Linked DNA regions of Homo sapiens: region 2 is linked to region 1. The links come from fine-mapping of genetic effects on gene expression. A gene starts in region 1. The other region holds a variant in brackets. All regions are shown on one strand. Distances are between the middles of the regions. Region 1 holds the start of BSDC1 (BSD domain containing 1). Region 2 holds the start of TSSK3 (testis specific serine kinase 3).

What was found. PIP is the estimated chance that this variant, and not a neighbour inherited with it, causes the effect.
Region 2: its variant is fine-mapped to the expression of BSDC1 in whole blood (TOPMed, PIP 0.95).

What each region holds. Positions count from the first base shown.
Region 1 is chr1:32,387,269-32,402,887 of GRCh38, forward strand. BSDC1 (BSD domain containing 1) reads right to left here and starts at 7,173. Exons shown (of 11, transcript NM_018045.8): 1 at 7,136-7,173; 2 at 6,812-6,872. The coding sequence starts at 7,146. It also overlaps the pseudogene GAPDHP20. RefSeq lists enhancers at 6,214-6,911, 6,899-7,188, 6,912-7,607, 7,479-7,558, 8,306-9,001 and 1 more.
Region 2 is chr1:32,358,366-32,373,984 of GRCh38, forward strand. It overlaps TSSK3 (testis specific serine kinase 3), which reads left to right and starts at 4,174. Exons shown (of 2, transcript NM_052841.4): 1 at 4,174-4,481; 2 at 5,230-5,947. The coding sequence starts at 4,337. The coding sequence ends at 5,891. BSDC1 (BSD domain containing 1) reads right to left here. Exons shown (of 11, transcript NM_018045.8): 10 at 10,082-10,185; 11 at 6,268-8,289. The coding sequence ends at 8,257. FAM229A (family with sequence similarity 229 member A) reads right to left here and starts at 4,120. Exons shown (of 3, transcript NM_001167676.2): 1 at 3,593-4,120; 2 at 3,365-3,511; 3 at 2,905-3,170. The coding sequence starts at 3,726. The coding sequence ends at 3,068. LOC124903933 (a long non-coding RNA gene) reads left to right here. Exons shown (of 3, transcript XR_007065642.1): 3 at 1-2,963. RefSeq lists silencers at 3,402-3,701, 3,852-4,051. The variant C/T (reference allele first, on the strand shown) is at 7,577.

The sequences.
Region 1 (15,619 bases):
GAATTGCTTTGATATGCTTTAAATCACGATATTCATACCAAGTTTCAAATAACATGAAAAAAAGGTATGTGATTTTTTTTTTTTTTTCTTGAGACAGAGTCTCGCTCTCGTTGCCCAGGCTGGAGTGCAATGGCACGATCTCGGCTCACCGCAACCTCCGCCTCCCGGGTTCAAGCGATTTTCGTGCCTCAGCCTCCCGAGTAGCTGGGATTACAGGCATGCGCCACCACGCCCAGCTAATTTTGTATTTTTAGTAGAGATGGGGTTTCTCCATGTTGGTCAGGCTGGTCTCGAACTCCCAACCTCAGGTGATCCGCCCACCTTGGCCTCCCAAAGTGTTGAGATTATAGGCGTGAGCCACCCAGCCTAAGGCATGTGATTTTTTTTATCAAAGGAAAGTGTTTCTATTTTTACTTTTTTTGTTACAGAGAAATTGAGTTGAAATATGAGGCAGTATGTGAAGTTATTTGCCTTCGGGTTTAAGAATTAGTAATTACTAATTGTATTAGTAACAGCAATAGCTTGGAAAGCTATTTTATGAGTAATTCTTAACAATTTAATATCAGTAAAAAGGCATGTGATTTTTTACATTCAACAAAGGAGGAAGCGGTCAAGAGAAAGACTAGATCAGATTCTCTTGGAGGCCTTCTTGGTTCTACCATCCCGAGGTTCTATTCATATACAAAGCTCCTTTGGGCAGAATGCATATTTGCTCCTGCTAAACCAATCTGTTTCTCAGCCTGCACCCAGACCTCACTTGAGAAAGCAGACCCTCAGCTCACTTCTAGGTCTTGCCCTGTCTTGCTTCAGACTCACCAACTCTAGGATGCTTCCTGGAGTATCTCAGTGGCCACTCCCCCTGCAAGCCCTTTCATCTTACACGGGGATAATCACCTGCATTTTTTAAAGCATGTTTTTGAGCGCTCCTGTGGTTTGTTCTTCTGGGAAGGGCCTGCCCACTTTTCATTAGCTTGGGAAGTTTCTGAATGGCACAGTCTATCAGCTACAGGCTTCTCTAGGGGTGGTAATCATGCCTCCATATCAACTCAGGACTCCTTAATTGGGGGTGGAGGAGGTCATTTACTTATTTACTTTTATTAAAATTTTAAAAAATATTTCACAGCACCATGAAATTGTGCCCTGGGTCATTTACCGATTCACTCTTTCTATCCACACTGCCACCATCTTAGTCCAGGCCAACTTATTCTTTCACCTGGATTCCTCCCAGGTTGTCTCAGCCACCTTTACTTCATTCTCCTTATGACACCCAGTGGGTGCTTTGTCTGTCAGGGCAGACCGTGCTGCTTTACACTCTTTAAGTTTACACACTATCCTAAGAGCAAATTGAAAATCCACCTTTACTTACAAAGCCTATATAACTTGGCCTCTGGCAGACTGGTATCCCCTACCACTGTGCCGTTCACTGAGCTCCAGCTGGCCTTCCTCAAGTTTCTAAAATGCCCTAGCATCTGTCCTGCCTCAGAGTATCTGAACACATTGTTTCCTCTCCCTGATACAGAGTTCTAACTCTTCAAAAAAACCAAGTCTGTAAACACGATGAAGGAACCCTCTTATCTGGAAAACTCCTGTTCATCCTCAACGTCTATGCTTCATTTCCCTAGAGGGGCTTCCTGCTGCCTCTTCAGGCTCAGCTGGCTCTCCCTGCTTTATCTCTTCTTCTTTTTTTTCTTTTTTTTTTTTTTTGAGATGGAGTTTCGCTCTGTTACCCAGGCTGGAGTGCAGTGGCGCGATCTCTGCTCACTGCAACCTCTGCCTCCCGGGTTCATGCCATTCTCCTGCCTCAGCCTCCCGAGTAGCTGGGACTACAGGCGCCCGCCACCAAGCCCAGCTAATTTTTTGTATTTTTAGTAGAGACGGGATTTCACTGTGTTAGCCAGGATGGTCTCGATCTCCTGACCTCATGATTCGCCCACCTTGGCCTCCCAATTTATCTCTTTTCTAACACTGAACATAGTTTAGACTTCAGATGACCTGTTCAATGTCTGTCTTCCTGGATAAACTGTGAGTTGTGTGAACACAGGTCCTATGTGTTTTGTTCCCTGATGGTTCCCCAGTATCTGACACAGAGCATACAGTAGGTACTCAAAAAATGTTTGCTTGTTAAATTTACATGGACCATTGAAATTTCAATTATGTAACCACTTGTGTGACTAAACAGTTGTCTTCCCGCTAGACTGTGAGCTCTGAGCAGACAAACATGAACATACGTTGCCCTCAAGCAGGTCACAGTCTACTGGGGAAAATGGTCCCATGATAGTGCTGATGTGCAAGGGCAGAGCAGTAGCTGCTGTACTATGGGGAGGTTGGGAAGATGTGGTGACCAGAAGCCTGGAATGGGCCCTTAAAGAATGAACAGGAGTTGGTTAAGAAGTATTGATGTGGGCCAGGTGCAGTGGCTGATGCCTGTAATCCCAGCACTTTGGGAAGCCGAGGCAGGAGGATTGCTTGAGCCCAGGAATTTGAGACCAGTTTGGACACTATGGCAAAACCGTCTCCACACACACACACACACACACACACACAAATACAAAAAATTAGCCAGAAGTGGTGGTACACGCCTATAGTCCCAGCTACCCAGGAGGCTGAGGTGGGAGAATCACCTGAGCCTGGGTGGTTGAGGCTGCAGTGGGCTGTGATCATGCCACTGCACTCCAGTCTGGGTAACAGAGTGAGACCCTGTCTCAAAAAAAAAAAAAAAAAAGAACAGGAGTCAGCTAAGAAGTGTTGACATGGGTTTAGTGACGTCTACAAGCATTACAGTCCTGATGGACATAAAATGTGAAGCAAGAGTGGTGAGGGATAAAGCTGGAGAGGTTGCCAAGGGCAACCAGGGAGAGCCTGGTCAGCCCTATGGATGATGGGGAGCCACCAAAGGTTTGAAGTGGGTGGGACATGAGATTTGCCTTTTCACTAAATTACTCCAGTGACTGGAATGGAGGAAAGGTCCAGAGGCGAGAAGATTAGAAGAGGAAGAAGGAAGACCAGTCAGGAGGCTGCTGCAATAATCCAGGAAAGAAAATAGAAAAATGTGAGTAAGGACAATGCTAGTAAAGATGGAGAGGATGAGACTGGTTCAAGATACAGGAGATGGAAGAAGGTGGATTTGGTGACTGAACAGGTATGTTGACTGAGGGCTAGAAAAGAATCATGGAAGCACCACAGGCTGCTAAAATAGGTGACTGCGTAGATGCAGTACTGCCAGCTAAGTGAGAAAATCCTGGAGGAGGAGCAGTCCTAGAGACAAGGTGGTAACAATGACTTTGGGCACGCAGAACTTGAGATGACTGTGGGCTGTCTAGGATAGCTGTCCAGCAATAGCTATCCTCAAACACTAAAGCTGGCCGGGCATGGTGGCTCATGCCTGTAGTCCCAGCACTTTGGGAGACCAAGGTGGGCAGACTGCTTGAGCCTAGGGGTTTGAGACCAGCCTGGGCAACATGGCGAGATCTCATCTCTACAAAAAATACAAAAATTAGTTGGGCGTGATGGTACACGCCTATAGTCCCAGCTACTTGGGGGCCTGAGGTGGGAGGATTGCTTGAATCCAGGAAGTGGAGGTTGCAGAGAACCATGTTTGCATCACTGCACTTCAGCTTGGGTGACAAAGTGAGAGCCCATCTCAAAACAAAGCAAAACACAACACTAAAGTTCAGGCAAAAGGTCTAAGAGTCGCCCTAACAGGAAAGTGGAGAAGGTGACCCAGGAAGAGTTTGGAAAGTGGACAGAGCAATGGGCTGAGGACAAGTGTCCTCAGACACTACCTGTAGGGGGCAAGCAGAGGAAGAGGAACTCATGAGACAGTTACAAAAGCAACGTCTGGAGAAGTATGTGGAGACTTAAGAATCATGTCACAAATGCCAAGAGAGTAGCGTTTCAAGAGAGGGAGTGATCACTAGCGTCAAATGCAGCAGAATGGTCCAGGAAGATAAGGGCTGAAAACCACCCACTGGATTTGGCAAGCAGTAGGTAAAGCTGACTGAGTAAAGATAAGTTTATAGGTGGTGGCTTTGAGGGTGGGGAGAGAGTTAAAGATCCTGTTTGTTCACCTGAAGTTTCAAAAAGTAGATGAGGTTGTCTCCTGGAAGTGAAAGGGATAAAGCGGCTGAATAGGGGACCCCAGGGAAGAGTTAGGTTTTGGGAAAGTTTCTGAAGTTAAGGGGAGGAGAAGCAAATTGGAGACTGAAGAGTATGTGGGCCCAGATGAGGTTGGGGAATCTGTGATGGAACCAAAAAGCATTTGGTGCCTTTCTCTTTTTAATTTCTTCTTTCTGGTAAGTATGTAGAGCAATGATATGCCTTTCTCTATCAACGTGTATGCACACGTATTTGTGTCAGTCATATTGCCCTTGACAACACACAGGAAGACAGGACAGGAGGAGGTAAGGAGCAGAGGAAAGCAGATGATAGCACCATCTCATAGCTGTGGTCTTCAGGGCAATGTGTTCTAAGGAGTGCTGAGAAGTGAGTGGTCCAGATGGAGCCAGAATGGGACATACAGATAGGAAAGCACCAAAAGACCAAGAAAAAAAATGGAAGGAAAAACGAACTGGGGGTGGTATCTAAGAGGTTTTCCCATCAGCCTCAGCACTTAATAACAGCTAATGCTTATATAGCACTTACTGTATGCTAGGTACTGTTCTTAGTGTTTTACATATATTAACATTTAACCATCACCACAATCTCATCAAGTAGGTATTGTTAGTATTCCCATTTTATAGATGAGGAACTGAGGCCTAGAGAGGTTAAAAACTTGCCCAAGAGGCCAGGCGTGGTGGCTCACACCTGTAATCCTAGCACTTTGGGAGGCCGAGGCAGGCGGATCACCTGAGGTCAGGAGTTTGAGACCAGCCTGGCCAACATGGTGAAACCCTGTCTCTATTGAAAATAGAAAAATTAGCTGGGCGTGGTGGCACATGCCTGTAATCCCAGCTACTCAGGAGGCCGAGGCAGGAGAATCACTTGAACTCAGGAGGCGGAAGTTGCAGAGCTGAGACTGAGCCACTGCACTCCAGCCTGGTAACAGAGCCAGACTTGGTCTCAAAAACAAACAAACAAAAAACAAAAAACACTTGCCCAAGTACATATAAGAGTAAGAAAGTAAAAAAAGGGAAATTACGTCTTTTCTTTCCAAAAAGGCATAAACAACTCCCACCTCCACCCCCACCCCAGCTTTTAACTGGGAATTCCAAGAATGAAGACGGAAGGTTGGCCAACTATCTATTTTTCATAAGTTATGATAAGACCAACCTTGAGACAAACACAGGAGGCCCTCATGCAACATCTGCTGAATGAATGTCAGACTTTCCTGCCAGGAAATTACCCAACAGGAAATATGCTACTATCGGGTCTCTTCTATCAAATGTTAGGGTGCAAGCCTCTCAGTCCTCATCAACAACATAAACAGCTCAGGGCATTCTCAGATTTGCTGGGCTATTGCTGAGAGGCTGTCCAGGAGTACCCAGGATAAGGGAGGAATAAAAACGCTCCCAGATGTCTGGGTGTGGTGGCTCACGCCTATAATCCCAGCACTTTGGGAAGCTGAGGCAGGTGGCTCACCTGAGGTGAGGAGTTCGAGACCAGTCTGGCCAACATGGTGAAACCCTGTCTCTACTAAAAATACAAAAATTAGCCAGGAGTAGTGGCACATGCCTGTAATCCCAGCTACTCGGGAGGCTGAGGCACAAGAATCACTTCAATCTGGGAGGCAGAGGTTGCAGCGAGCTGAGACCGCACCTGTGCACTCCAGCCTAGGTGACAGAGTGAGACTCTGTCTCAAAACAAAACAAAAATACTCCCAGAGTAGAGGACTTATTTAGGTGAGGTCAGAAGCTTCCTGGAGTTGGCCCTGAAGCAGGACTCATCCCAATTGCTTGAGGTAAATAGTAATCAACTTTTCCCACAATTCAGTTGGGCTGATTTTGACAAATAAGCATGAAATGAAACAGGAATACACATTGGCAAATTACCCACTGGCACAGCCAAATATCACTCATCCCACAGAGATTGTTCAGCAAGAAGGCCTTCCACTCTCTGGTGATTAATCTCTCTCTCTCTACTGCCCGTTGCATAGCCCCTACTTAGAACTCATCAGGCACCAGTGTGTATGGCTCATGCTCATCTCTGGCTTGGGTTCTTGCTTTTCATCCTGTCTAGGCAGGGTTGCCCTTGATGAGGTTCCTTCTCCACAGGGGCCTTCCCTGGTGAGTTACTGACTAACCAGAACAGACAAGGTGCCCCTGTACTTTCCTTTCACAGAACTTACCACAACGGTAACTAAACAACTATTTGTTTGGCTACTCGGTTAATGGCTGTCTCTCCACTAGACTGTGAGCTTTGTAAGGCCCAGGATTACATCTGTTTGGCTGAAGTCTGTATCCTCAAGACCTATCAGAGTGCTGGTTGTCGCATATACTCTAATATTTGAATGACTATACGAGTAAGTTTTTTTACTGCTAGAATCTTTTCCTTCAAGACCTGTATCAAATGCTCTCTCTTTCACGAAGAAACTGAATTTCCTGAGCTGGAATAAATTGCTCCTTCCTATGGATTCCTACAAAACGTTCGTTAACTCCAGCCTTTAAAACCATCTTTATTTCACTGTGGCTAGTATCACACTGGTTTGCGTCGAGGTCTGTCTTCCCGTGGACCGGTAGAGGCTAAAAGAAAGGCCCAGGTCAGCCTCATCCTTGAGACTTAGCGCCCGCAAAAGTTGGGCGGGGCTGGTTGGACCAGGTTGCATTGAGGCGGCGCAGGGCCCTGCTGAGGGAAGAAGGGCACGGGCCCGGCTTACCTTCTCTTTGACTGCTTGGTAGCTCTGCTGCAGCCAGCTCCGCCACCATCCCACGTCCTCCCTGTGGAAGACAGACACATCTGGCAGCACCGCGGTGCGATTCCTGCCCGCCCAAGGATCCGGTTTGTTCCCCGCTCAGATGTACCCTGCGGGCCGAGGCTTCGCAGACCGCTTGCCCACCCCCTCACAATGCGACTCCACTCTGCCCTTTCAGATCAGTCCACGCCCCCGCTGATCTCACGTTCCCCACCGGGACTCTCGCCCAGCACCCCAACCCTGGGAGAATTCAGGCCCCAACGCCTAGGAGCAAAACGACAAGCTCACCCTTCCGCCATCTTGCCTGCATGACATCACCACTATTTACTGACCTTTGACTTCCGACACGGCACCGCCCCCTCAAGGACCGCCCCCGAGGCGCTCGGCCCAATCCTCGCGCCGGCACCGCCCTCAGCCCAATCCCCTCCCTGCGCCATCATTAGGTCCCGCCTCCCTGAACTCTATCCAGTCTCTGTCCCGAGTTCGCCCTCAAACTCCGCCCCTGAACTCTCAGTTCAATCGTCATTCAGTCCTGTCCTCAGGCTCCACCAAGCTTGACTCTTTGTCACTGTCCGCAAACGTCGGGTACGGTGGCCTCTATGGACGATGATCAGCCGACAAGCTGGACTGCGGAGAGCTGGGAGCAGAGGGGAGGAGGAGAGATAGCTCGAACGTCAGGATCCCAGAGCGCAGGGTTAGGACCGCCCCCCTTTGTGAAACCAGCTGCGTAGAGGCTGCTTTGTGTCTCTTTGGGCTAATTCAATAAGCCCATATTGCGGGGCTGTGGCCCAGAGTTTGGAGGAATGTGAATAATTCAGAGGCGACTTAGATGCAGCCTTTGGAGGGCTTACGGGTTAATGGGAGACACACACATTCAGTAATCTCAACTTTCGGTGGCCCAGCTCAGAACAACGCCAGGTGGAGGTGGTCTGGAGAAATCCGGAGACCGCCTGGATTGAGTTCTACTGCGATTGGAAGGGAGATTCCACAGCCCACATACTTTGGACTTTAATTAAGGTCAGCCCCTCCACGTGTGCGGTAGATCCCATCGCCTCTTGTTTGCTTAAGGACATAGATCTAGTAATCCCCCCTTCATCTCTTTTCCCTCTGATGACTGCATTTATCCTTGTCATCATCCGTACTGCTGTTTCTCCCATCTCAAAGGCAAACAAAAACCAGCCCTCTCTATATCCCTCACCGTTTCCCTACTCCCCTTTACAGCAAAAGCGTTGCCTACTCACAGTCTGCAACTCCCCTCTCCTCCCATTCTCTCTTGAACTCACTGCAGTTAGGTTTTTGCCTCTCAGACAATCCTTTGAAATAACTTTCTTTTATTTATTTAATTTTATTTAATTTTATTTATTTTATATTTATTTGTAGCTCTGCTGCAGCCAGCTCCGCCACCATCCCACGTCCTCCCTGTGGAAGACGGACACATCTATTTTATTTATTTATTTATTTTTGGTCCTCCCTGTGGAAGACGGAAACATCTATTTTATTTATTTATTTATTTTGAGTCAGAGTCTTGCTCTGTTGCCCGGGCTGGAGTGTAGTGGTGCAATCTCAGCTCGCTGCAACCTCTGCCTCCCGGGTTCAAGCGATTCTCCTGCCTCAGCCTCCCGAGTATCTGGGATTACAGTTGTGCACCACCATGCCCGACTAATTTTTGTATGTTTAGTAGAGATGGGGTTTCACTATGTTGGCCAGGCTTGTCTCGAACTCCTGACTTCAGGTGATCTGCCCTCCTCAGCCTCCCAAAGTGCTGGGATTACAGGCATGAACCACTGCACCCAGCCTGACATAACTTTCTTAAGGTCGCCAAGAGGAATGGCCACTTTTCAGTTCTTGTTTTACATCCGCATCTTATTTGACACAGTTGACCACTTTCTTCATTTGGCTTCCAGGACATCATGCCCTCTTGACTTTCTTCCCCGTTCATTGGCATCTCAGTATTCTTTGCTGTTTTCTCACCGCCTTCTTGTTGCTGGAATGGGATATTCCCTGGGAGAAGGCTCAGCCCTTGGTGTCCTCCTCCTTTTTGATGTTTATAGTCATTCCCCAGATATTCTCATAAAGTCTCATGATTTTATTTATTATTATTTTTTAAGATGGAGTCTCACTCTATTGCCCAGGCTGGAGTGCAGTGGCATGATCTTGGCTCACTGCAACCTCTGCCTCCTGGGTTCAAATGACTCTCCTGCCTCAGCGTCCAGAATAGCTGGGATTACAGGCACCCACCACCACACCCAGCTAATTTTGTATTTTTAGTAGAGATGGGGTTTCACCATGTTGGCCGGGCTGGTCTTGAACTCCTGGCCTCAGGTGATCCACCCACCTCGGCCTCTGAAAGTGCTGGGAGTACAGGCGTGAGCCACTGCTCCTGGCCCATTTTATTTTATTTTTAAGACAGGATCTTACTCTGTCGCCATATTAGTCCATTTTCACACTGCTAATAAAGACATACCTGAGACTGGGCAATTTACAAAAGAAAGAGTTTTACTGGACTCACAGTTCCACATGGCCAGGGAGACCTCACAATGATGGAGGAAGGTGAAAGGCACATCTCACATGGTGGCAGACAAGAGAAGAGAGCTTGTGCAGGGAAACTCCCGATTTTAAAACCATCAGATCTCATGAGAACCATTCACTATTATGAGAAAAGCACGGGAAAAACCCGCCCCCACCATGATTCAGTCATCTCTCACCAGGTCCCTTCTACAACACGTGGGAATTATGGAGCTACAAGATGAGATTTGGGTGGGAACACAGAGCCAAACCATATCAGTTGCCCAGGCTGGAGTGCAGTGGCACGATCATGGCTCACTGCAGCCTTGACTTCCTGAACTCAAGCAATCCTCCTGCCTCAGTCTCCTGAGTAGCTGGGACTACAGGCATGCACCATCAAGCCCAGCTATTATTATTTTTTTAAATAGAGATGAGGTCTCCCTGTGTTGCCTTACTTTTAATTTTTCTTTAGCAGTGCTTCACTATGTTGCCCAGGCTGGTCTCAAACTCCTGGCCTCTAGTGATCCACCCACCTTGGCTTCCCAAAGTGCTGAGATTACAGGTGTGAGCCATCTCACTAATCTCATACTTTTAAATGCCATGTATATGCTGATGGCTCTCAAATTTCCTCTCCAACCCATACATTTTCTCTGAACATCAGGTTCATTTTGTCTATTTGCATGTGTAATAGGTGTATTATTTTTAACATGTCCCAAAACAAACTCTTGATTTATCCACCTCATCTTCCTGCAAACTTTCCCACATTTGTAAATGGAACCTCATTATTCCAGTTGCTCGAGCCAAAAACCTAGGAGTCATCCTTGCTTTCTCACTTTCTTTCATACTCCCAAACTAATCCCATCAGCAAATCCAGTTGGCTCTGCCTTTCAAACAAAACCAGAATCTAGTGACTTCTCACCACCTCCACTGTTATTATGTAGATACAAGCTACCATAATCAATCTCATGGTTAATTACAAGAGCCTCTTAACAAATATTTCTGCATCCACTCTTGCCTTCCTTAAGTCTAGTCTTCATTTGCCTGAAAGTAATCTTTTAAAAGACATACGTCACTGGGAATGCAACTGGTATGGAATACAATATGCCATTTCCTCAAAAAAATTAAACAGAATTACCATATGATCCAGCACTTCCACTTCTGAGTATATACCCAAAAGAATAGAAGGCAAGTACTCAAACAGATATTTGGTGGTTTTTTGTTTGTTTGCTTGTTTGTTTTGAGATGGAGTTTTGCTCTTGTCACCCAGGCTGGAGTGCAATGGCACGATCCCAGCTCACTGCAACCTCTGCCTCCCGGGTTCAAGCAGTTCTCCTGCCTTAGCCTCCCTAGTAGCTGAAACTACAGGCGCATGCCACCACGCCCAGCTAATTTTTTTTTTTTTGAGACAGAGTTTCTTTCTCGTCACCCAAGCTGGAGTGACAAGCAATCTTGGCTCACTGCAACCTCCACCTCCCAGGTTCAAGCGATTCTCCTGCCTCAGCCTCCCAAGTAGCTGGGATTACAGGTGCCCACCACCATGCTCTGCTAATTTTTGTATTTTTAGTGGAGACAGGTTTTCACCATGTTAGTCAGGCTGGTCTTGAACTCCTGACCTTGGGCGATCCACCCACCTCGTCCTCCCAAAGTGCCAGGATTACAGGTATGAGCCACCATACCCAGCCCTGGCTAATTTTTTGAGGTTGAGGCTGCAGTGAGCTGTGACCATGCCACTACATTACTGCCTGTGCAATGGAGAGACCTTGTCTTTAAAACAAAGAAAAACATGTGTGTGTGTGTGTGTATATATATATATATGTATATGTATATACATGCCAGATTACAGCCTTCCTCTGCCCAAAGTTCTGCAATGTCCTCTTATTTCACTCAGAGAAAAAGCCAATAAGTCCTCACAGTCTCCTTTAAGGCCCCGTATAGTTGATCTGACCTCACATTACTGGCCCCCTTAGTCACTCTGCTCCAGACACATTGGCTACTTTGATATTCCCTGAAAATTCCCGGGACTCTCCTGACTTGGGGCCTTTCAACTTGCTGTTCCTTTTGTTTAGACTGCACTTACCTCCAGATATTTATGTGCTTCTAACTTTCACCTCATTCAGATCTTTACTTGAATATAATCTTCTTACTCACCCTGACCACATTATTTAAAATCACAAGTTGCATAACAAGCACCCCCATTTCTCTTCTCTGACATATTGTATATTATACTTTGTTTAAAAAATTGTTTGCCTCCTTCAGACTAGAAATGCAACCTCAATGAAGGCAGGATTTTTGTCTGTCTTGTTCACTTGTCTACGGCTAGCACCTACAACAGTGTTTGGTACATAATAGACACTCAATATTTGTTCAGTGAATGAAAGAATAAATGCAAGGAGAGTGAGGACAAAGACAGGACTAATTTAGAGCAATCTGGAATAGCTAAAAAGAAAAAGGAAAAGAGAGGATGGACGTGAGGCTGTAAAGGTCATTAACATCTCGATTCTTGAGAGCCTTGAATGCAGGACTTAAAATTCATGGACAGAGGAGAGTCACCAAAGGTTTGGAATAAGGAAATGATTTGTGTTGTGAAGATGATGTGATCAAATGATTGAATGCTACTGTTAACAGATCTAACGGTGCCATTGGGGTGAGCACTTTATACAGTGTACCTTCCCAAAAGCTCAATGAGGTGGGAACTATTTTTAATCTACATTTTATAAATGAAGAAGGTGACCAGGCACGGTGACTCATGTAATCCCAGCATTTTGGGAGGCTGAGATGGAAGGATTGCTTGAGCCCAGAAGTTTGAGACCAGTATGGGCAACATAATGGCACCCTATCTCTATTATTATTATTATTATTTTGAGACAGTTTCACTGTGTCGCCCAGGCTGGAGTGCGGTGGTGCAATCTTGGCTTACTGCGACCTCAGCCTCCCAGGTTCAAGCGATTCTCCTGCCTCAACCTCCTGAGTAGCTGGGATTACAGGCGTGCACCACCACACCCAGCTAATTTTTGTATTTTTAGTAGAGACAGGGTTTCGCCATGTTGGCCTGGCTGGTCTTGAACTGCTGACCTCAGGTGATCCGCCTGCCTCAGCCTCCCAAAGTGCTGGGATTACAGGCATGAGCCACTGTGCCCGGCCTCTATTATTTTTTTTTAAATAAAAGTGAAAAAGCTAAGATTCTGAGATATGGGGTGACTTTCTCAAGGTAACACAGCTAGGAAATGGCAGAACTCGGATTTGAACCCAAGGCTGTCTAATAAAATCAAGCTTCTGTGCATTTCATGCTAGTCTTAACTTCTTCCAACCTTATGTCCTGCCTCCCCACCCAGATGATAGCTGCAGGCATCCTGTCCTTCGTTATCTTCACCTTGTCTCATTCCTCACCCCCAGGCCCAGCAGAGTGCTCGCCCATGATGTCCCTAGTGACTGTGGATTCAGTGGGACCCTTTGCTTGGGTTTCTTTGGTCTTCCTTATCTGTTCACCCCAGTACCTTGACCGTTGGCTCCTTTCACTGCCATAACCTCTGGCATCAAACATATTCATCCTTTTTTTTTTTTTTTTTTTGAGGCAGGTCTCACTCTGTCACCCCAGCTGGACTGCACTAGCATGATCATGGCTCACTGCAGCCTCAGCCTTCTAGGCTCAAGTGATCCTCCTGCCTCAGCCTCCTGAGTAGCTGGGACCACAGGCATGTGCCACCATGCCTAATTTAATTTTTTTTTTTTTTGTAGAGATGGAGTCTTGCTATGTTGCCTAGGCTGGTCTACGAACCCCTAGGATCTAGCGATCCACCTGCTTTGGCTTTCCAAAGTATTGGGATTACAGGCATAAACCACTGTGCCCGGCCAATGTCTTCATCCTTAACATTGGGATACTAATTCTGGTTGTTGTAATGACTAAAGAAAATAAATAAAACACCTAGCACATTGCAAGGCATAAAGTCCTCATGTAGGGATTATGATTGTCTTACCTCCTTACCCCTGTCCTCAGAGCCTCATACAATGCTAGGCGCTGGTAGAGGGCTAATGGACATCTGTTGAGTTAAACAGTATGTTGAAAGAACACTGGTTTGGGAGTCAGCAGAGCTAGATTTTAATACTGGTTTATGGGCAGTTGTCACTTTTTCTCTCTGAAATTCAGTTTTTTCACTGTCCTTGGGGCCTCTACAGTCTCCTGCAGCTCTTAGGCAAAGTATGAATGCAGGTAAATCCCACACCCTCAGACCCTCCTTTGACTCAAATCCCCCCTCTGACACTGCTGGACCCCTTTTGGCAGATGATTTTTTTCCTACTCCCCCTACCCACCCCATTAGAATTGGCAGGTGATTCTTATCCCAGGATCCTGGCTTTTGCTCCCAAGGAGCCCTGACACCCAGGTGCCACCAGATGGTGCTGTGGACTCATTCTTCACGGGAAGCTGGCTCCCGGGCTCCCCGGCTCCCTATCTCCCCGGCTCCTAGGAGAGGCCTTCTGGCTCCTCTGGACAGGGTGGGGTTCCTCCGTGGAAGGCTGCTAGGCCTGGGATAATCCTGGGAGGTGACTCAAGCCTTTCAGAAATTTCCAAGGCCCAAGCCCGCCCTCGGTTTGGCGTGCAGATTCCAGCATAGAGTTGGCAGGAGGACTGGCTGCGTAATTTGTAGAACCCAGTGTAAGACCAAAATGCCTAAGTTACTGATGCAGGCAGCACAGGGAATGCCTAAAAGCCCATGGACTGGTTCTAGTTCAGCCCTCTAGAGCTGATTGTTAACATTTCAGGAATTTTGGCCGGGTGTGGTGGCTCACGCCTGTAGTCTCAGCTACCTGGGAGGCTGAGGCAGCAGAATCACTTCAGCCTGAGAGGCAGAGGTTGCAGTGAGCAGGGATCGAGCCACTGCACTCCACCCTGGGTGACAGAGGGAGACCCTGTCTCAAAAAAAAAAAAAAAGAAAGAAAAAGAAAAAAAGGAATTTTAAAAGCTGGTTGTTGAACACGGACATTATTTAATTAAATTTTATAAACTTACCATTAAATAAGTTATAGAGCTGGGTGTGGTGGCTCACACCTATAATCGCAACTTTTCAGGCGGCTGAAGCAGGATGATCGCTTGAGCCCAGGAGTTCAAGGTTACAGCGAGGTATGATTACACTATTGTACTCCAGCCTGGGTGACAGAGCAAGAGCTCATTTCTAAAAAATAAATAAATAAAATAAAAACAAAGGTAATAAATAACCCAAACTCATCACTATGTAATTACTTTTATATATTTCACTATCATTTATGCTCACTTTACTTTTTTTGGCTGGGTACAGGGGACTTTATTGATGGTACATGACAAAGTGCGGTCTCATAGTCCCCTCCCATTCTTCAGGGAGCCTGGCATGGAAACAGTGTTCAGGAGGGGGAGATTCTCAGTGTGGTGGGGGACTGAGTTTGGCAGGGACTCCCCAGCAGCTGAGGGCCTCTCTTCTTCTCGTGCTGTCACTGGGGCTGGTGGTTCAGAGGGCCCTTACTCCTAGGAGGCCATGTAGACCATAAGGTATATCGTTCTGTTGCTGTAGCCAAATTCATTGTCATATCAGGAAATGAGCTTGACAAAGTGGTCTTTGAGGGCAATGCCATTCCCAGCATTGAAGGTGGAAAAGGTGGGTGTCTCTGTTAAAGTTGGAGGAGGCAACCTGGTGCTCTGTGTAGCTCAGGAGGCCCTTGAGGGTGGCCTCCGATGCCAGTTTCACCACCTTCTTGATGTCATCATATTTGGGCAGCTCTCTCCAGATGGCAGATCAGGTCTACAACCCACATGTTGGCAGTGGAGACATGGAAGGCCATGCCAGTGGGCTTTCTGTTAAGCTCAGGGATGGCCTTGCCCACAGCCTTGGTAGAGTGGGTAAATGCAGGGATGATGTCCTGGAGAGTCCTGTGGCCATCACGCCACAGTTTCCCAGAGAGGCCATCCACAGTCTTCTGGGTGGCAATATTGGCACCAACTGTGGCCATGAGTCCCTCCATGATGCCAAAGTTGTCATGGATGACCTTGGGCAGGGCAGCTAAACAATTGGCAGTACAGGAAGCGTTGCTGACAATCACAAGGTTGTTTTCATACTTCTCAAGGTTCACGGCCATCACAAACATGGGGGCATCAACAGAGAGAGCAGATATGACCCTTTTGGTTGCACCCTCTAAGTGAGCCCCAGCCTTCTCCAAGGCAGTGAAGATGCCAGTGGACTTCATAACATAATCAGCGTCAGGACCAGCCCATTTGATTTTGATGGGATTTTGTTCCTGGAA
Region 2 (15,619 bases), 29 kb before region 1:
TTCTACCAGGTGTCAATTAGCCCTACTTAACAGATTTGAAGATGGAGGCTCAGAGGGGCTAAGTAACTAGCTCAAGACTGCACAGTTAGAGAAACAGCAGAGTTAGGACTTGAACTCAGCACTAGTTTCGGCCAGTGGCTCTTCCAGTGGAAAGGAGTAAGAAGAAACAGAACAGGATGGAAGAGAAGAGAAATAGGAGAATGAAGTGACCCAGGTAGGAGCCTGTCGTGCTCTGCCTGCCTGCAGAACAAAGTTCAAACTCCTTCACCTGGTACGCAAAGGTCTCCTTGATCCAGCTTCTCTTCTGTTAACCCATTCCTGGATCCCCTGCATTCTATGCTCTGAAAGGGAAAATGATGTCAGATTCAGGGCTGGGTTCTCAGTACCAGGCATGGCCCAGGAAGGTGTTGATGAAAATTGATGAACTGAGTTTCTTGAAATTGTCCTTCACTTTCCTGCCTCCAGGCCTTTACCCACAATGCTTCCTCCCCAAAGGGAATGCCCTTTCTCTTGCTCATGGACATTCTAGAGCTAACTAGCCCCATTGGCAAGGACTGCGTCTAGAATCTTTGTATCCCTCACAAATCAGGTACGTGGGATGTGGCAGTAACTGGTTTCTAAATTTTTTTTTTTTTTTTGAGATGGAGTCTCACTCTGTCACCTAGGCTGGAGTGCAGTGGTGCGATCTCAGCTCACTGCAAGCTCCACCTCCTGGGTTCACACCATTCTCCTGCCTCAGCCTCCCGAGTAGCTGGGACTACAGGTTCCCGCCACCACGCCTGGCTAATTTTTTTGTATTTTTAGTAGAGACGGGGTTTCACCATGTTAGCCAGGATGGTCTTCATCTCCTGACCTCATGATCCACCTGCCTCGGCCTCCCAAAGTGCTGGGATTATAGGCGTGATCCATCATGCCCAGCCTAATTTTTTTTAGAGACAGGATCTCACTCTGTTGCTCAGGCTGGAGTGCAGTGGTGTGACCTTGGCTCATTGCAGCGTCAAACTCCTGGGCTCAAGCAATCTTCCTGCCTCAGGCTCCCCGGTAGCTAGGACTACAAGCACACGCCACCATACCTGGTTTTTTTGTTTTGTTTTGTTTTTAGAGATGGGATCTTGCTGTTTTCCATGCTGGTCTTGAACTCCTGGGCTCAAGTGATCCTCCTGCCTCAGCCTCCCAAAGTGCTGGGATTACAGGCCTGAGCCACCATGCCTGGCCTATTTTTTTTTTTTTTTTAAGGAAAGGAGGGTTGAGAAGAGAGGAGAAGGAAGTGGGAGAGATGGAAAAAAAGGAAGAATGAGAAGGATTCACTATTTGGGGGCTGGCAGAGTCCAAAGAGACCAGCTGATGCCTTTTTTTTTTAAACCAGTGAGGAAATAGGCCCTTTTAGTAAGCCTCCTACATGGGGACTGCCTGGGAGAGCATTTTATGTGGAAACTGAGAAGGGTATCCCTTTTGGGTGACGTGGAATTTTAAGGTGCTCTAGGGAAAGCTTGGACTTCTCTACCCTATGAGGATTAGAGGAGGGTGTTGAATCAATTGTCCTTAGATCTCAGGGGACAGGAGACTGAACCTGACCTTTAGGTTACACTCCCCCCGTAACAAAATTGGAAAGTAGAATATACGGGCTCATTAAAGCCAAATTGGAAAGTAGGAAATAGTTGTTTAGCTTAAATACTAGCACCTCCAGGCAGGCTTCCTGTCATGGGCCCCTCCGAGGGCAGATCTTAGGTCATGTGGTCTCAGGATGCTGAGGAGTGTGCTAGACTCTCATTGGGGGACCTTGGGTAAGTCTCAAAGGCTCAGTTCACTCATCTGTAAAATAGGAAGTTAAACCAACGTCTTTCTTTCTCTCTCTTTTTTTTTTTTTTTTGGATAGAGTCTTGCTCTGTTGCCCAGGCTGGAGTGCAGTGGCATGATCTCAGCTCACTGCAACCTCTGCCTCCTGGGTTCAAGGAATTCTCCTGCCTCAGCCTCCCGAGTGGCTGGGATTACAGGTGCGTACCACCACACCCAGCTAATTTTTGTATTTTTAGTAGAGACGGGGTTTCGCCATGTTGGCCAGGCTGGTCTCGAACTCCTGACCTTGTGATCCACCTGCCTCGGTCTCCCAAAGTGCTGGGATTACAGGCGTGAGCCACCGCGCCTGGCAAGCCACCATTTTTCAAATGGCCTCTTCCCCAATCTTTTTATGATCACTTCAGTCCTGGGAGAAACCAAGGCTCAGGATGGACTGGGGCAGCTCCAAACCCTTCCAATAAGGAAGGTCCCAGGCACCTAGGGCCACAAAGAGCAAGTCGCAGAACTTTGTCGCAGAACTTCTCGCTCGAGAGGATTAAAATGGGTCTGGTCGGGTGCCTGTAGTCCCAGCTACTTGGGAGGCTGAGGCAGGAGAATTGTTTGAACCTGGGAGGCAGAGGTTGCAGTGAACAGAGATCATGCCACTGCAGTCCAGCCTGGGAAACAGAGCGAGACTCCATCTCATAGATAGATAGATAGATAGATAGATAGATAGATAGATAGATAGATAGATGATAGATAGATAAGATAGATAGATAGCCTGGTGTGGGTGGCCTATGGCTGTATTCTATGTTACTTGTCGGTCCACCTCTTCCTCCTGTTCCCCGCTTCTGTGGGTTGCCAGGGTCCAGCACAGTGATGTGAATTTCACCGGAGAATCACCAGAGGGTTAGAGAGATGGACCAGGGCAGGGCCCAAGGGAAAGGCTGCCCAGGAGGGGTCAGGACCAGCAAGATACGAGAGGAGTGAAGTGGCGTAGGTTGAAAGGCGGAAGGGCGGGCCCCTAAGGCTGGGTCCAAACGAGGAGGCTGCGGAAGGGAAAGTGTTATTGGACTGGGCAGAGCAGCTGGTGGGCCCGACGGATAGACATACACTGCCAGCCCGGAGTGGAAAGAACAGTTTGTGCTGTGCTTTATTAAAATGTGCATCATTCTTTTATTTTAAAATGTGCATCATTGTCTCGTGCTCGGCGCATGCGACCTCAGCGTGGTGGCCCGCTGGGGGCCTCGTTCCCGCCCAGCTCCCGCGGAGCCGCAGGGAGCAGGCGCACTCACGTGGCGCGGGCCCGGGGGCTCCCGCCCATGGCGAGGTAGACGTCGATGGGCACGTGCAGCAGCGTCAGGCAGTGGCATCCAGGGCAGCGACGAAGCGGCCTGGGGAAATTGACGCGCGACAGGGGCCGCTGAGGCAGGGGCTTGGCCCATCCTGTGGGGCGCACCCAGGGAGTGCACCTGGGGTCCCCGGGGGTCCGGACGTGGATGCGGGGTCCTGACTGCTGGGGGCGCCAAGTGGGACGGAGGGCGGGGCCGCGGGACGGGCGGAGGCGGGGGTGGGGCGCGGGCCTTACCTGACCGGGTTGTGCTCCGTCGCTACCGCCTCCGGGCTGTCCTGGGACTCGGGGGCGGCGGCAAGGCCACGGGAGTCTCCGGCCTCAATGGGGAATCTCCGACCCTGCGGGGGCTCCTGGGCGCTCATGTCCAAGCCCCGGGGCGCTCTGCGCGGGGAGTGGCGGTCAGGCCTCTCCCGGGTCGCCGGGCGCCGCCGCCTCGCGCCCGCCCCCTGGGCCGTCGCTCACCTCCCGGCGGTTGAGACCGGTCCCAGGCTAGAAGCAGCTGCCGGAGCCCTGGCCGCGGGAGAACGCTCCGGTCCAGGCGGAGCCGGGCAGGTCTCTGTGGCGTGCCCGGGCCCGGGCGTCGAGGAGGGCAGCATTGTGACCCGGGCCGCGGCGCGCTGACCTCACAGAGCACGTTCCTCCCACTGGAGAACCCCCAACGGTGCCCCCTGCCGCCCCTGGCACTCAGCGCGGGCCAGAATCGGGGACTGGAGGCCTCTGGCCATGGCGCCTGGAGACGGGGTCGCGCAGACCCCGGACACCCGAGGGGGGCGCAGCAGGCCAGGGCAACCCGCCGCGAGGCGGCGTCCACGCCGAGGAGCCGCGCATTCCCGGTCCACACAGACGCGGCGGAGCGCCCTCCCAGGCGGGACTACAACTCAATGCCTGGCACGGGGGCGGGCTCGGCGGTGACTTAATCCGGGCTGAGTTTGGTGGTGGTAGTGAGGGCAGGTAGGGGCACTGCCCATTTTGGCCAAGGGTCACACAGCATCTACATCACAATTGCACCGGAGTTTAAAAATGTCTGGCCCTGTCCCTCCCCACCACCCGCCGCTGTGTCCAGACAGAGAATGTTCTAACGCTGGGGGCGGCTGCGGATGAAGTCCTTGGGGAGAAAAGGAGCAGGCCAAGGGCGATGGTGGAGTAGAGCTGCCTCTCAGAGGCAGCATGAGCTGAGAGGGTGATAGGAAGGCGGCGCTAGACAGCATGGAGGACTTTCTGCTCTCCAATGGGTACCAGCTGGGCAAGACCATTGGGGAAGGGACCTACTCAAAAGTCAAAGAAGCATTTTCCAAAAAACACCAAAGAAAAGTGGCAATTAAAGTTATAGACAAGATGGGAGGGCCAGAAGGTGAGCCGGGGCCCCTTTGGAGGGAAGGAGGGAGGACTGGCTGAGGTGGGTGGGTGCTTCCTCCTGTTTGTTAGAACGATCATTCGATCATTCCCTGCTCCCGCTGGCCTGGAACCAAGCAAGCCCGATGGCAGCTCTGGAGTGGGTCAGTGGGGAACAGAGGGGTTCTGGGAGTCCAGGAACATTACACCCCCCCAGAATGCAAGATGAAAGTGGCATGAGGTGAAGGATCCTCAGAGGCAAAACCTGAGCCAGGCTTTCCTTTCCGGCAGGGGAACAGAGACTGGCAGAGGCCACAACCAGGGCTGGTAGAGAACAGGGGCTGGTGCCAAGGCCCGTGGAGATGGGAAAAAGGAAGACAGGGCTCATGGAAAGAATTGTGGGGTCAGGGGACAGTGGCGGGAGGAGCTGGCTCACCACCCTGTGGACAAATCAGGCCTTATAATTTGTGATTCTGTGGCTTTGTCTAAAAGTCCCTAAAGCACCTTGATATCCAGTCTCACAGACTGCTCACAACAGTCCACAAGGCTGGTGGGGAGTGCTTCTTTTGAATGATATACTAACGACAAAAATAATAGAAGTGAACATTCTTTGCAATGTCCAAGCAGCTAGACACACTTAAGACCATTAAGAAAGCCAAGAAATAAGACCCAGACAAGGTGGGCAGAAGTTGGAAGGCAGGAGACAGGTGTGAGGAGGTGGGCCTTTCTGATCTGCCAGCCCATCTCTCCTCCCCTTACTTCCTCAGAGTTTATCCAGAGATTCCTCCCTCGGGAGCTCCAAATCGTCCGTACCCTGGACCACAAGAACATCATCCAGGTGTATGAGATGCTGGAGTCTGCCGACGGGAAAATCTGCCTGGTGATGGAGCTCGCTGAGGGAGGGGATGTCTTTGACTGCGTGCTGAATGGGGGGCCACTGCCTGAAAGCCGGGCCAAGGCCCTCTTCCGTCAGATGGTTGAGGCCATCCGCTACTGCCATGGCTGTGGTGTGGCCCACCGGGACCTCAAATGTGAGAACGCCTTGTTGCAGGGCTTCAACCTGAAGCTGACTGACTTTGGCTTTGCCAAGGTGTTGCCCAAGTCACACCGGGAGCTGAGCCAGACCTTCTGCGGCAGTACAGCCTATGCTGCCCCCGAGGTGCTGCAGGGCATTCCCCACGATAGCAAAAAAGGTGATGTCTGGAGCATGGGTGTGGTCCTGTATGTCATGCTCTGTGCCAGCCTACCTTTTGACGACACAGACATCCCCAAGATGCTGTGGCAGCAGCAGAAGGGGGTGTCCTTCCCCACTCATCTGAGCATCTCGGCCGATTGCCAGGACCTGCTCAAGAGGCTCCTGGAACCCGATATGATCCTCCGGCCTTCAATTGAAGAAGTTAGTTGGCATCCATGGCTAGCAAGCACTTGATAAAAGCAATGGCAAGTGCTCTCCAATAAAGTAGGGGGAGAAAGCAAACCCAAAAACCCGCTTCTAAAATGGTGATATATATTTTACGCTTTAAGTTTACTTATCCTAAAACTTACCTACATCTACCCCAGCCTTACTACTACTCTTTCCTTTTAGAGATCTTCATGGAATCAAAGGGCCTCATTCAGACTTCCTTTTTTTTTTTTAAGAGTCTTGCTCTGTCGCCCAGGCTGGAATGCAGTGGCACGATTCCAGTTCACTGCAACTCTGCTTCCCAGGTTCAAGCGATTCTCCTGCCTCAGCCTCCCCAGTAGCTGGGATTACAGGCACCTCCCACCACGCCTGGCTATTTCTGTATTTTTAGTAGAGATGGGGTTTCACCATGTTGGCCAGGCTGGTCTGGAACTCCTGACCTTAGTGATCCACCCACCTTGGCCTCCCAAAATGTTGGGATTACAGGCATGAGCCACTGCGCCTGGCATGACAAGTGATTTTCATACTAAAGTTAATTAAAATAGACCCAAGAATCATATACAAACAGGGGGAAGAGAGGATAAAAATGACCAAGAGCAACTGAAGCCATTCTTGTTGCAACTTCCTTTCCAAAGGAAAGCAGAGGCACTGGGAGTGCAGAGATGGCCTCCCGACTCCTTGTCCCAGTGAGAGGCCTGTTGCGAGCCCTGACCCTTTCTCATCCCAAAGGCAAAGCTGAATCTGGGATGAGGACAAGGTACGTCCTCTGGACCTAGGCTATCCCCCTACCCTGTCTCTGGCTCCAAGTGGGAAGCCAGTCCTGCCCTGGCCCAGTGCAGCTGCCAAGGGGACAAAAACAGACCCCCAGACACCTTTCAGCTTCGGGTGAATCACTTTAATGCTGTTAACGGCAAGTCTGTAAAAGGTTCAGGACAAAGTTCTTTTTTCTTTCTTTTTTAATTATAAAACTAACAGCTGTTAGAATCTTTTTTTCTTTTTTTCCTTTTTTCTTTTCCCAGCTACAAAATACTCTGGGGAGATGCATTATAATTTAAAATATATAATATTGCACAAACAACCAAAAGGTTAATTAAACTAAAGAAATAATTACAAAGAGAAAAACCCCATCCCGTCAAAAAAAAGATTCAGCATTCTCTCCATCCCACCCCCTCACTGAAGGTTTGAAGTGGAAGTGACCTCACTCTCTCGGTGTCCCTGACCCACGATCCCTTTCACTCATTGGTGAGCACACCAGATTAGGTACAAGAATCACCAGAGCAGCATCGTGAAGCACCAGGCTCTCCAGAGATTCCTGCAGCCCCTCATTCCCCCAGAGGTGCAGCTTTACCAGAGTGGAGGGTGAGAGCACAAAGGCTGGGTCTGTCTTCAGGAAGAAGAGCTTTTGCAGAAGCCTGATGAGAGTTTCAAGTTCACCCCCAGGATAGCCCTTCCAGAAGCAGAAGGGCTGAGGCGGAGAAGCTAGGCTTACCAGAGTTGTAAGTACTCGGCTTTGATCACCGCTCTGTACCGCTGGTAGCTGTTTTGTGTCCTAAACTACAGGGGAGTTGAGGTGGGTAGCTGGTTGGACAAGGTATCCTGCCAGGCAACACACAGAAGGGCCTGAAGTAGCCCCCTCCCTTCTTGGGGAGGGGAAGAAACGCAAGAGCGAACTCCTGCAGGTGGCACAGCTGGGCTAAGGACTTGGGTGCATC[C/T]GACATGAAGAAGCCCTGGGAAGGCATGGGGACAGACCAGCGTGGGCTGGAGGAAAGGAAGGAGGTGGGTCAGGGTTTGGTCTCTGGATTCTGAACCCCAAAGGAGCCTTTCCAGGAATGGAAAATGCCTGGGAGGGGGAGAGTCCCAAGAGAGGCAAATTTCCCAGAGATAAGTGCCTCTTACCCACTGGGATAGGAACCAAAATGTGTTCACTGTCCCTGTTTAGCCAAGGGTAGGTGGCATGGCCCTCCCTGCCTGCTTATGTATGGACAGAGTATGTTGTCTCAGCTTCCTCCGAGAGAGACTGGTGGTTTAGCTTCTGTCTACACAGGCAGAAGGGCTAGAACTATCCCTTGGGACTTCCCAGCAGGAGTCCTCAGGAACAGTGGGTGTTCAGCAGAAAAACACAGGCTCTTCTGGTGAGGAGGATAGGTTTCCTCTCCCTTGGGTCATCCTATTGTTGGCACAAGTCAGAGTTTCTGGCCGGGATTTAGAGAGCCCCTTCCCAGGTGTGAGCAGAGGCCCAAGAGGGCCAGCAGGGAGCCACCAGAATCTGTGCCCAGAGCTCTGGTTGGCAGAGGAGATTTGGGGGAACATTCTCAGTCTTCCAGGGCTGGGCTGAGACGAGCGAGGGAGGCGAGAGATGCCATGGGTGGGGGAGCTGCTCCCTCTGGCTCCCTCACTCCCAGTCCTCCCACTCTACATCTTCCAGCTGCAAATGGGAGGGGGTAATGGAAATCACAAACACATAGTTACTCCTGAGTCAGGCCCAGACCTAACCTCCACTTGCTGAGCAGAGCCACCTCCCATCCCCTACCCCAGGCCATACTCTGAGGTCCCACTGAGAGTGAACCCCTAGTCTTAAGGAATGTGTCTGAGGGGCAGAGCTGCCCTCTGCCTGAGGGGTGGGCCTGATGCTCTGATTACCTCAGACCTAAAGGAAACACTTCCCCCAACCAACACCAGACACCACAAGGTGATGGCTGCCTACAGGAACCAAGTCAGCCTCAGTCCTTTAAGGAGAACTTGCCTCCTGCTGAGCAGATAATGCCATGGCTCTGAGAAGCAGAGAACTCAGGAGGCCTGAGCAGATACTTGGCCCTGGACACAAAAGACCAGTGTAATCAAGGGCAAGTTACTTAGTCTTTGGGTGAATGGAGGCCACTGCCTGAGTGGCACTGTGGCCAAAAGCAGAGGTGGCAGTGGCCTACAGATGCCCACTAGGTCTTCACTAGGGGCACCAACACCCTAATTCCCAGCTCAAGTCTCCCCACGGAACGTTTTCTTGCTTTGTTCCTACTCTTGGCCTGCTGTCGGCTAAGCCCTGGTATAGCAGGTTCTAGAATGCTCACGTGTACTGCACGTCAGGTTTTAAAGGGGGCTGCAAAGACACAAAAAGCCAGCAAGCCCCTGTGGCCTGACAGGGCACTATGGGCTTTCTCTGTCCTGGGTATAGTGAGGTAGTCACAAGTGCAAAATACTCCTGAGTAGGTAAAATACTCCCCCAAGGCTTCAGTTTCCCATCATGAAAAAGGAGGCCCTTCACATGTCTCTCTAATCTGTCCACCTCTTTCTAACAGGCTCATAAGTTACATGATGGAAGGACTCATGTGGTTCTTATGTGACAGTGGAACTAACGCTGACATGAATCAGATGTCTGGGTTGCAGCCTCAGTCCTGTCACTTATTAGCTGGGAGAGCTTTGGACTGTTCCAGCCTCTCAATCTAAATGAGCCACTTTTGATTCTGAGAGGTAGTGAAGAATAACAGTACTAAGGCCTCCTTGAGCTTAATAACTGGAATGGGTTTTGTGGGGTTTATCACTAATGTCTCCTGAGTGCTGGTCACCATGTCTCAGGCAATAGCCCTAAGGTGTCTACATGGATCACCTCATTACAGCTTATAGCCAGGTCTTATAATGATCAATTCCATGTTTTAGATGAGGAACCAGGGGCTCAGGTTAAGTAACTTGCCCTTGCCCTTGATCACACTGGTCTTTTGTCTCCAAGGCCAAGTATATACTCAGGCCTCATACCTGAGGACCACAACTCAGAAGGTCAGGCAGGGTTTGATGTCTGTTTTCTTTTTTCCTTTTTTTTTTTTTTTCAAAAACAGAAATGGGGTCTCACTATATTGGCCAGGCTGGTCTTGAACTCCTCGCCTCAAGCAATCCTCCCACCTTGGCCTCCCAAAGTGTTGGGATTACAGGTGTGAGCCACCGCGCTCAGCATGACATCTGTTTTCTTAAGCAGTTTCTCAGGCAATTTTGATACAGAGCTAAGGTCAAGAACTTGACCCTCTATCCACCCTGGAACTGAGGAAAAGTGCAGCCTGCTGATGACCAATGTTGTGGGTCTGAGCAGGAAGCTCCAGCTCCTTTCCCACCACCTGTCACCTCAGACAGGAGCAGGGACCCTCCTGAGGGGACAGCTGGGCTGGCTGGGGAGAGCTCTCACACCCAGGACCATTAGGCTCGCTTCCCTCTGACCCACCAGGCCCACTCACCTCCCCGGAGGCATCCACTTTGGAAAGTGCCATCTGCACCTCCTCTTCAGTCATGTCCAAGTCAAAGTCTTTCTCCCAGTCCTCACTGATGTCCGTGCTTGAGCCTGGAACCACGAGCCACAGTGTGAAAAGCAGGAGGAGGCAGGGAAGGGGCACCTGAAGAGGGTGTAGCTGGGGAGATAGCATGCTTCAAAAGGGTCTCACAAATACACAAGTCTTTACATTTTGTGTTCACTCTGGCGCACCAATCGTACTTTTTTTTTTTGTTTTCTTAGATGGAGTCTTGCTGTCACCCAGGCTGGAGTGCAGTGGTGTGATCCCGGCCCACTGCAACCTCTGCTTCCCAGGTTCAAGCGATTCTCCTGCCTCAGCCTCCCAAGTAGCTGGGACTACAGGCGCACGCCCCACACACCTGGCTAATTTTTGTATTTTTAGTAGAGACGGGGTTTCACCATGTTGGCCAGGCTGGTTTCAAACTCCTGACCTCAATGATCTGGCCACCTCGGCCTCCCAAGGTGCTGGGATTATAGGTGTGAGCCACCGCACCTGGCCCCCACTTTTAAGAATCTATTCTAAGGAAAAATCTTGGATTCAGTCAGAAATTTAGCAAAGAGTGTTCACTGCAGTGCTGTCATAGTGATGGAAACCTAGAAACAATCTGAAAGCCCACTGACAGGGAATTAGACAAGTAAACAGTGAGTTACATGGTGGAACACTGTAGGCTGTTAGAGGTTAGGCTGGAGAAGAACTTCACATCCATGCCAAACAGCCTTAAACTATTACCTCGGAAAAGGCAGGTTACTAAAGAGCGGAGAAGCACTTTGGCCCAGAGGCTCCAAGAGAGTCACAGAAATCTTCCAGAGGAAATCAACAGTGAACTGAGACCTTGTCTCTAGAAAAAAATTTAAAAATTAGCCAGGCATGGTAGTACACACCTAAGGAGTCCCAGCTACTCAGGAGGCTGAGGTGTGGTGATCACTTGAGCCCAGGAGTTCAAGGCTGCAGTGAGCTATGATCATGCCACTGCAGTCCAGCCTGTTGACAGTGCAAAACCCTGTCTCTAAAGAAAACAAAAACCTCCCCTCGGACCCCCAAACAGTAGACCTCTTCTTCCTCACTCCATTCTGCCCACACTAATCTTGTTCCTCCAGAAACATACCAGGCGCATTCCCAACTTAGGGCTTTTGCATGGGCTGTTCCCTGCACCTGGAACTCGTATCCTCAGATATCTACAAGACCAACTTTTCACCTCCTTCATGCCATTGCTCAAATCGTACCTTCTAGATGTGGCCTACACTGACCATCCTAGTTTAAAGAGCAACCCATCATCACCCTCACTCTGCTCTAGTTGTTCTTTTTTTTCTGAGACAGAGTCTCGCTCTGTCACCCAGGCTGGAGTGCAGTGGCACGATCTCAGCTCCCTGCAACCTCCGCCTCCTGGGTTCAAGAGATTCTCTTGCCTCAGCCTCCTGAGTAGCTGGGATTACAGGCACCTGCCTGGTACCACATCCAGCTAATTTTTGTATTTTTACTTATTTATTTATTTTTTGAGACGGAGTCTCGCTCTGTTGCCCAGGCTGGAGTGCAGTGGCGCGATCCTAGCTCACTGCAACCTCTGCCTCGCAGGTTCAAGTGATTCTCCTGCCTCAGCCTCCTGAGTAGCTGAGATTACAGGGGCATGCCACCATGCCTGGATAATTTTTGTATTTTTAGTAGAAACGGGGTTTCACTATGTTGGCCAGGCTGGTCTCAAACTCCTGACCTTAGGTGATCCGCCTGCTTTGACCTCCCAAAGTACTGGGATTATAGGCGTGAGCCACTGCGCCTGGCTCTGGATTGTTCTTTTTCCCATTGTAGTGATCACTTTCTAACATATTACATAATCAGACTTAATATGTTTATTGTATATTAATAGAGGAGTTAGAATATAAGCCCTGTGAGTGCCAGGATCTTTTGTTTTGTTCTCTTATGTATTTCAAGTTTTTAGAACACATAGTTGGCACTCAATAGTCACAGACCCTTTCTGTAAACCAGGGGTTGGCAAACTATGGCCCAGGGATCAAATCTAGCCATGTCGCCGGGCGTGGTGGCTCACGCTTGTAATCCCAGCACTTTGGGAGGCCGAGACAGGTGGATCACGAGGTCAGAAGATCGAGACCACCCTGGCTAATGTGGTGAAACCCCATCTCTACTAAAAATACAAAAAATTAGCTGGGGGTGGTGGCAAGCGCCTGTTAGTCCCAGCTACTCGGGAGGCTGAGGCAGAAGAATCGCTTGAACCCGGGAGGCAGAGCTTGCAGTGAGCCAAGATCCCGCCATTGCACTCCAGCCTGGGTGACAGAGTGAGACTCCGTCTCAAAAAAAAAAAAAAAAAAAAAAAAAAAAATTCTAGCCATGTCACATCATTTGTTTACATACTGTCTATGGCTGCTTTCATGCTGCAAGAGCGGAGATGAGTAATTTTGACTGCATGGCCCAAAAAGCCTAAAATATTTATGGTCTGGTCCTATACAGAAAAAGCTTACCACCCTCTGCTCTAGATGATTCTGATGCCTGTCTGTACTATTTGATGATCATTGCTCTAAACATTCATATTTGGCTATGACTTCTTACAGGTAATATTAAAAAGATATATATAAAAGTTATTACTAAGAAGTAAACTACACAAATAGTTCCTTTCAATAAAGCATGTACAGTAAGATTCCAGCTTTAAAATGTGCCCATAGATGCATGCACACATGCAGAAGAGATGAGCAAGATATCCAAATACACTAGCAAAGTTATCTCTAGGTGATGAGTTCATGAGGTGATTTTCCTTAATTTTTTTCCTAAAATGAACACATACGACTTTGTAATCTTTTTTTTTTTTTTTTTTTTTTTATTTGAGATGGAGTCTCACTCTCGCCCAGGCTGGAGTGCAGTGGCACAATCTCGGCTCACTGCAAGCTCTGCCTCCTGGGTTCACACCATTCTCCTGCCTCAGCCTCCTGAGTAGCTGGGACTACAGGCGCCCGCCACCACGCCCGGCTAATTTTTTATATTTTTAGTAGAGATGGGGTTTCACCGTGTTAGCCAGGATGGTCTCGATCTCCTGACCTCGTGATCTGCCCGCCTCGGCTTCCCAAAGTGCTGAGATTACAAGCGTGAGCCACCGCACCCAGCCTGTAGTCTTTTTTTTTAAGTACCTTTAAAAAGAGTGGGTCCCTGATCCTCCAACGGCATGACCAGTAAACATCTCCGTTTCTTCTTCTCCGACCTACTCCTCACCAGATGCCTCCGCGCTGAGACCTACCCCTCAGCCCCGCTCCCACATTCCTTCTATGGTATCCTGCATCATCCTCTCTTCTAGCCAGAGCATGGTCTCTGGGGCCAGGCAGACCTGGGTTGAATACCTACTCCTTTACTGTGTAGTCTTGGGCAAATTATTGTTGGCTTCAGTCTATTTATAAAATATGGATAAAAGCAACCTCTGCAAAGAACCACTGGAGAAGCGTATTAAAATACAGACTCCTACCCTGCCCACCCCCAGTCCCAACTAAGACTCAGCAGGTCTAGCTGGTGGCTGGGAAGGCTGCATTATAAGCAGGTACCTGTGTGTTCTGTGTAGACCTGGCCCTGCCGTTTGAGAAACAATGGTGTTAGAATTAGAGGTATGAATGTAAAGTGCCTATTACATACATACACATGGCTATGTAATGAATGGTGCTGCCTTTCTTCTAAGGGCCTTGTCTCAGAGTTATGTCATTCTGTACACGGTACCTCAGGAAGTCAGGGCAGCCAAGACCCAGCTCTTCTGACTCTGCACCTACATCCCTCTGTGCCTTCAGGACACTTAGGTGACATTCATCTGGCTGTCACCACAGGCTTCCTGTGGGTTAGCCAGACTCTTCGCTGCTTCCTCACTTCAGGGCTTTGGTTGTGGCCATGACAGCTTTCCCTAACCTCAGGTTGCCCTCTAGGGACTTGAAACTGTCTCTTCAGGCTTAAATGCTATGGCAGAACCTTTCAGGGGTAGAGAACAGAGTATCCACTAACATTTCTGGAATATTCCACATCTAGCTCTTGGGTGGGTATTAACAGTCCCAGTATACGGATGAGGAAATGAAGGCTTCAGGTGGTGCAGGGAGCTGTGAAGCTGGGTTCTCTCTGCCATCTGCCTCCTTCCACCGTCCTACCCTGTCACACAAGGAGAGCACTAAGATCTCCATTACAATGTGCATGTGGCAGAGAGGTGGCCTATGCTACAATTTAAGACTTCAGAATGGAGTTCTACTGGTTTGGTTTTGAAAATGGAAGTTTTCGGGTGATTGCTAACTTTGTAGTGCTGTCACTCACAGCTCATTTTATTCTGTTTAATCGGCTCTCTGCTTCCCCAGTTAAGAAATAGAGGCAAAACTGCTCTTAGGTCACACGGTCATGAAGTGAGGTCTTAACCTCCAGGCTCCTTCCAGGCCACAGGCCTGCCCCAATCTCTCCTCCCCTTCTCTGCAGAAAGAAGTCCAGTCTCTCAGAACAGACGAATGCTGTGACAAAACATAGGTGGAAAGCAGCTCTGCGATGACAGGGATCACCCTGGGAACCAGTAAAACCCTTTGGCTAGGGTACCCCAAGAGACTCTGCTATACCCAGAGACCAAGCCTTATGTCACCCTAGGACTTGGGCCCAACAGGAAAAAGGAGTCACTTTGTCTCCAAGCCCCCATTCTTCTTTTTATTTCTTCTACTCTGTTCCCACTGTTCCAGCCTAGTCCAAGACTCTGGCTTCCTCCCACCTGACTACGGTTGTTTCTTGTGAGTCTTCTATAGCACATCCTCAGCCTCTCCTTTCACAGGCCCTGAGGGCAGCAGAGGCAGCATAGCAGAGTAGTTAAGAGCTTATGTTTACCTCTCCTGTAATTTCAATTCCATCCAGTCTCCAACCACTACTGATTTTTTCTGATCACCCTTTGTAGCCCAATTCCAAATGAAACCTATAATTTGTAACCCTCCAACTGTTTCACTATCCCTCATTCTCTCCCGTACTCAGCTCAGATTCCATGAGGCATCATTCTTATCACTTCTTGCATATACTTTCTTTTCTTTCCTATTTTTTTGAGACAGGGTCTCAGCTCTGTCACCCAGGCTGGAGGGCAGTGCAGCAATCTCAACTCACTGCAGCCTCAACCTCCCCACTCAGGTGATCCTCCCACCTCAGCCTCCCGAGTAGCTGGGACTACAGGCACGTGCCACCACATCTGGCTAATTTTTTGTATTTTCTGTAGAGATGGGGTTTCATCACAATGCCAGGGCTGGTCTTAAACTCCTGGGCTCAAGCGATCCACCTGCCTCAGCCTCCCTTAAGTACTGCAATTATAGGTGTGAGCCACTGTGCCCAGCGGACTTTCTTCTTTTCATCAACTGATTTTACCTGGCTAAACTTGAACCTAATTAGATCCAACTCCCCATCTGCTCTGTTCCTGCACCTGAGCAACTGAATATGGCTGAACAAAAATACAACATGTTGATGGTCTCACTTAAAACCTACAATCACAACCTCAGT